Regions from separate parts of the Homo sapiens genome. Here region 1 is linked to region 2. The links come from fine-mapping of genetic effects on gene expression. A gene starts in region 2. The other region holds a variant in brackets. All regions are shown on one strand. Distances are from middle to middle. Region 1 has its middle 320 kb from the start of LINC01440. Region 2 holds the start of CYP24A1 (cytochrome P450 family 24 subfamily A member 1).

What was found.
Region 1: its variant is fine-mapped to the expression of CYP24A1 in whole blood (TOPMed, PIP 0.94).

What each region holds. Positions count from the first base shown.
Region 1 is chr20:55,104,506-55,107,408 of GRCh38, reverse strand. No RefSeq gene overlaps it. Among named protein-coding and RNA genes, the nearest start is that of LINC01440, 320 kb to the left of the region's middle. The variant C/T (reference allele first, on the strand shown) is at 1,404.
Region 2 is chr20:54,172,583-54,175,485 of GRCh38, reverse strand. It overlaps CYP24A1 (cytochrome P450 family 24 subfamily A member 1), which reads left to right and starts at 1,500. Exons shown (of 12, transcript NM_000782.5): 1 at 1,500-2,164; 2 at 2,387-2,577. The coding sequence starts at 1,907. RefSeq lists an enhancer at 1,277-1,870.

The DNA of each region.
Region 1 (2,903 bases), 930 kb before region 2:
ATTCTTCTCCAACGAACTGGAAGGCTTCACCAAAACAGATCACATTCAAGGCCATGAGCCACATCAAAACAATTTTCTTTAATGGAAATCATACCAAACATACCCTAAGACAACAATGGAATTAAATTATGTATCAACAAAAAGATAGCTGGAAAACTGCAAATAGTTGGAGAATAAGTAACTACTAAACAACACATGGGTCAAAGAAGGGTCTCAAGGGAAATATATATGTTGAACTAAATGAAAATAAAAATACAACTTACCCGAGTGAGTGTCATACAAAAAAAAAAAAAAAAAAGGGGGGGCAGTGCTTAGGTGGAAATTTAGGTGGAAATTCATTTATCTTGAATGCATATATTGAAAAAAAGAAAGGTCTAAAATCAATAATCTAGGCTTCCGTCTAAGGATAGTAGAGAAAGAAGAGTAATATAAACCTAAAGCAAACAGAAGAAAATAAATAACAAAAATTGGAGCAGAAAGTGATGAAATAGAAAATAGGAAACCAATAGAGAATATTAACAGAAACAAAAACTGTTTCCTTGAAAAGATCAATAAAATTGCTAAATTGCAAGACATCATCAAGATGGTGAAACAGAGGCTCTCAGTGCTTGACTCCTGCACAAAGAGAGACTAAAACAGTAAGTAGACAAAGGTACATCCAGTAGGACATTTCGAGAGAATGCTGGAATCCAGTAGGTAAGGGACATTTCTGTGGCTTTCAGACCCAGTGAGGCAGCTGACCAGATTGATTTGGGAAGGAAGAGGCTCCCTATTTCATGGGAGGGGTAAGTGAAAGATCCTCAGCAGTGCACATTCCTGCTGCAGATTCCCACAGTCCTAGCTGCAGGAAATTCCCTGGGTGCCAGGGACCCTGAGCCCAGTATAGTGGGATGTCGGGAGTCCACGTGACTGCATTGCTCCAGAGAGAGCAACACAGCGTTATTTTGACAGCAGATCCAACAGTGAACTACATCCTGCCTTGGGGCCCAAAAGCCCCTGCTTTCCACATCCCTGGGGCCTCACAACACTCTCTACCTCCACTCTTAGGGCTGCAGAGCGCCGCTGGCTGGACCCAGTGGTACTGTCCAGATATTGGCAGCAGAGCCCATGCTGTTGCCTATGTGCCAGTAAGCAAGTGGTTTAGCATATCAGGGAGGTGCCCCCAGGACACAGGGAACAAAGTGTGTGCTCCCCAGCCTGAGAGCAGCCCATCCACTGTTACCACTACAGCAGCTACCCCATCACCTCCAGCAGCTGGGCCACTACTCACTCGTTACCTACAGCCAGGGACCAGGGAGCCAGCCTGCCTGCTCCACCAAGGACACTGCTGGAGCCCATGCATGCTGCCTTCCAGGGACCCCAGGACTGTAACACCTGGCCTGCAACCACCACCACCACCACCA[C/T]CACTACCACCTGTACCCAAACTCCCTACCTGGGGACTGAAAACTGGCCTGCTCTGCAACCCTGTCCCCTGAAAAGACTCACCACGGCCTCCATAAACAATAGAAGCCTAAGCTACTAAGGAACTTGCAGACACTGTTAACAATGAGTACAACCAAAGTAATCATAAGGAGACTATACTGTGGGGCCCAACCAGTACCAAAGCAAAGCACCTTACCAAATCAACATTATAGGTTCATCCAAAAGAGAGACTTTCCCCATGGAAGCTATAATATCAAATTGAAAGAAGTGACAGCATATTAGTCCATTTTCATACTGCTATGTAAAAATACCCTGAGACTTAGGAATTTATAAAGAAAAAGAGATTAATGGACTTGCAACTCCACTTGGCTAGGGAGGCCTCACAATCATGGTGGAAGGTGAAGGAGGAGCAAAAGCAGGTCTTACATGGCAGCAGGCAAGAGAGCATGTGCAGGGGAACTGCCCTTTGTAAAACCATCAGATCTTGTGAGACTTATTCTCTATCACGAGAACAAAACGGGAAAATCTGCCCTCATGATTCAGTTACCTCCCACCAGGTCCTTCCCACAACATGTGGGGATTATGGGAGCTACAGTTCAAGATGAGATTTGGCTGGGGATGCAGCCAAATCATACCAGTTACACCAGATGTGCAGATACCAATGCAAGGACACAGGGAACATGGAAAAGCATGGAAACACTGACACCTTCAAAGGAACACAATAGTTCTGTAATGAGTTCTCAGTGGCATCTTCTTCCACTATAAGGTTGTTTGATTTACATGGAAAATCTGCTGTTTAGTGTTGCCACCTTCATTAATGATCTTAGCTAGAGCTTCTGAATAACTTGCTGCAGCTTCTCCGTCAATACTTGCTGCATCACCTTGCACTATCATGTTTTGGAGATGGCTTCTTTCCTGAAACCTCAAGAACCAATCCTGGACAGCTTCAAACTTTTATTGTCTGGCTAATTAATATAAATCCTGGCCAGCTTCAATCTTTTATTCTCCAGCTAATTAATAGAAATTAGCACAAACTTTGAGGAAATTACACACAATATCCACTCAGCTGAACACATGCAAACCTGCAACAGGCAACCTCTGAGACTGCTCAATGACCCTCACCTTCTGGAACTTGTGCCCCTATATACTTGTGGTAAACTATCCCTTGAGTGTAAGCTGTAGCCCGTGACTTACTTCCAAATAACAGAATGGAGCAAAAGTGATGAATGTCATTTCCAATATTAGGTTACAAAAATATTCTGGGACTTCTCCTTCTGGGAAGATGGAATAGATGTTTTTTCCCCTATATGTTCCACTAAGTGAAACTAAAAACCTAGGGTACTGTTTACAAAATAAACCTAAGAAGACCCTGAAAGGCAGAGAGAAGGCAGACCTGCTAGTGACCTGGGTACCCACAGAAAAACATGGTAATTAATTCTCTGGGTGTTCCTTTTGCTTCATGTATCCCATGCTTGAGGCTG
Region 2 (2,903 bases):
TATAACATATGGAATCTACATACTGTATGCAATCTATACTATATTATGTATATTTAGTGTGTATTGCATATAACATAATCTATAGTGTATGCTGTAACATATATACCATACAATGTATATATAAATATGTACAAGATTCATAAAGTTTAGTATATATCAATAGCTATTATTTTTATTAACATAAACAGTCATTAGCCCCTCCAGACAAATCAGAAATGATGGTGTTAAAGCTTAAGTTGGACTGCAAAAGATTTTTAAGAAACAAACTAGAGGCTTACAAAAGAATTTACCAGGGAAGGATTTGCCAACACTTGGGGCAAAAATGACTGAGACACGTAATTGAAAAGCAGGGCGAGGAAACAGAATGTCCCTCCCCTCCTCCCTGGCTGGTGGTAGTTTTGTATTGGATCAGGTTGAAAGGATTCGAGCCACTTTAAAACAATCAACAAAAATCTCCAACTTCCGTTCCTGAATTAGCAAAGCGAGTTCTACTCTTGCCAGCCGCGGTAACTCTAGAAATTGTGTATGTTTGTCACTGGACCTGCCTAGGACGCACCTTGGGGGAGAGGGGGAGTACTGGGGGCGGTGGTTTCAAGCTCTGTGTGCCCCTCCTTTGCACAAGGTAGTCGGTGTAGAAGAACAGAGGCGGGCAGTGGACATAGGGGAGGTGGCCCAGCCTGAATTCAAGCATCGTTGGTGCAAGCCACGCTCTCAAGGCGCATTTCCTAACTTCCTAAAGAAGTAACAACAGCAACTAACTTTTATTGACTGTTGACTATAGACAAGGCTTCGTTGTTGCCGCTTTACGTGCATTAATTCATTTAATCTGCAAAACAACCAAACATGAAACAGCAGGAAGGAAATTCTACAAACTCCCCTTCTTGCTCAAGTTAAGAAAGTCTCCTCTTCTGGTGCATTTCAGTAAGACTCAAATCCTCCCCACCCTGGGAGGCGCAGAAAGCCAAACTTCCTCCAAAAAAAAAAAGGCAAAAAAAAAAAAAAAATCACTTCAGTCCAGGCTGGGGGTATCTGGCTCCCCGGGAGGCGCCCGGGCTCCCCGGGGCCCTGGCAGACGCCGGCAGCTTTTCTGGGCCCGCACTCGGGGACCTCGCCCGCCCGGCATCGCGATTGTGCAAGCGCCGGGCGGCAACCACGGCCGCCGCTGCCGGCTCCTGCCCGCCGGGGGAGGGCGGGGAGGCGCGTTCGAAGCACACCCGGTGAACTCCGGGCTTCGCATGACTTCCTGGGGGTTATCTCCGGGGTGGAGTCTGCCGCCCCCACCCCACCTCCCGCGCCCAGCGAACATAGCCCCGGTCACCCCAGGCCCGGACGCCCTCGCTCACCTCGCTGACTCCATCCTCCTTCCACCCCCCCTCCCCTGGGTCCCGCGTCCCTCGGAGTCTGGCCAGCCGGGGGCCACTCCGCCCTCCTCTGCGTGCTCATTGGCCACCCAGGGCATGCTCTGTCTCCATAAATGCATGGTCCCTGGGCATAGGAACATGGAGAGGGACAGGAGGAAACGCAGCGCCAGCAGCATCTCATCTACCCTCCTTGACACCTCCCCGTGGCTCCAGCCAGACCCTAGAGGTCAGCCTTGCGGACCAACAGGAGGACTCCCAGCTTTCCCTTTTCAAGAGGTCCCCAGACACCGGCCACCCTCTTCCAGCCCCTGCGGCCAGTGCAAGGAGGCACCAATGCTCTGAGGCTGTCGCGTGGTGCAGCGTCGAGCATCCTCGCCGAGGTCCTTTCTGCTGCCTGTCCCGCCTCACCCCGCTCCATCACACCAGCTGGCCCTCTTTGCTTCCTTTTCCCAGAATCGTTAAGCCCCGACTCCCACTAGCACCTCGTACCAACCTCGCCCCACCCCATCCTCCTGCCTTCCCGCGCTCCGGTGTCCCCCGCTGCCATGAGCTCCCCCATCAGCAAGAGCCGCTCGCTTGCCGCCTTCCTGCAGCAGCTGCGCAGTCCGAGGCAGCCCCCGAGACTGGTGACATCTACGGCGTACACGTCCCCTCAGCCGCGAGAGGTGCCAGTCTGCCCGCTGACAGCTGGTGGCGAGACTCAGAACGCGGCCGCCCTGCCGGGCCCCACCAGCTGGCCACTGCTGGGCAGCCTGCTGCAGATTCTCTGGAAAGGGGGTCTCAAGAAACAGCACGACACCCTGGTAAACCCCTTTTCGCGCCCCTGACTCTCTCCTCCCTCTTCCGCCCTCCCAGTGGCGCTCCAAACCCTCCCCGACATGCGCGCCTCGGGCGCATGGTGCGCTTCGGCGTCTGGGCAGGGAGGGTCCCCGGTCCCCTAGGAGGAAGGAGGCGGGAGGAGGGAAAGCGCTTCGGGCACGGCGGAGGATGCGCGCTGACACCGCGCTGTGCCCGGCCGGCTGCAGGTGGAGTACCACAAGAAGTATGGCAAGATTTTCCGCATGAAGTTGGGTTCCTTTGAGTCGGTGCACCTGGGCTCGCCATGCCTGCTGGAAGCGCTGTACCGCACCGAGAGCGCGTACCCGCAGCGGCTGGAGATCAAACCGTGGAAGGCCTATCGCGACTACCGCAAAGAAGGCTACGGGCTGCTGATCCTGTGAGTCCAATCCGAGGGACCTGGGCATGCGGCCAGACCTGATGAGCCTGACGGCGCCTGGAAATTGTGAAGAGGCGGAGTTAGAGTTCCCTGGGGTTGGAAGCTTCTTACGTAGGGCGGATACCAAAGCCCCTCTCCCGTGCCATCGCAACCCTGAGCTCTTGTACAGATTAGAGTCGGTCCACGGAAAAGCCGTGCTGTGCACCCAGCACCTGCGTTCTCTCTGGCAACAGGGCAGGGCCACACCCTCCCATCAAAGAAACGCCAAAACAGGGTTGTACCAACTGTGGTGTTCAGACTCTTGGGCAGGATGAGGTTCTGAAGTC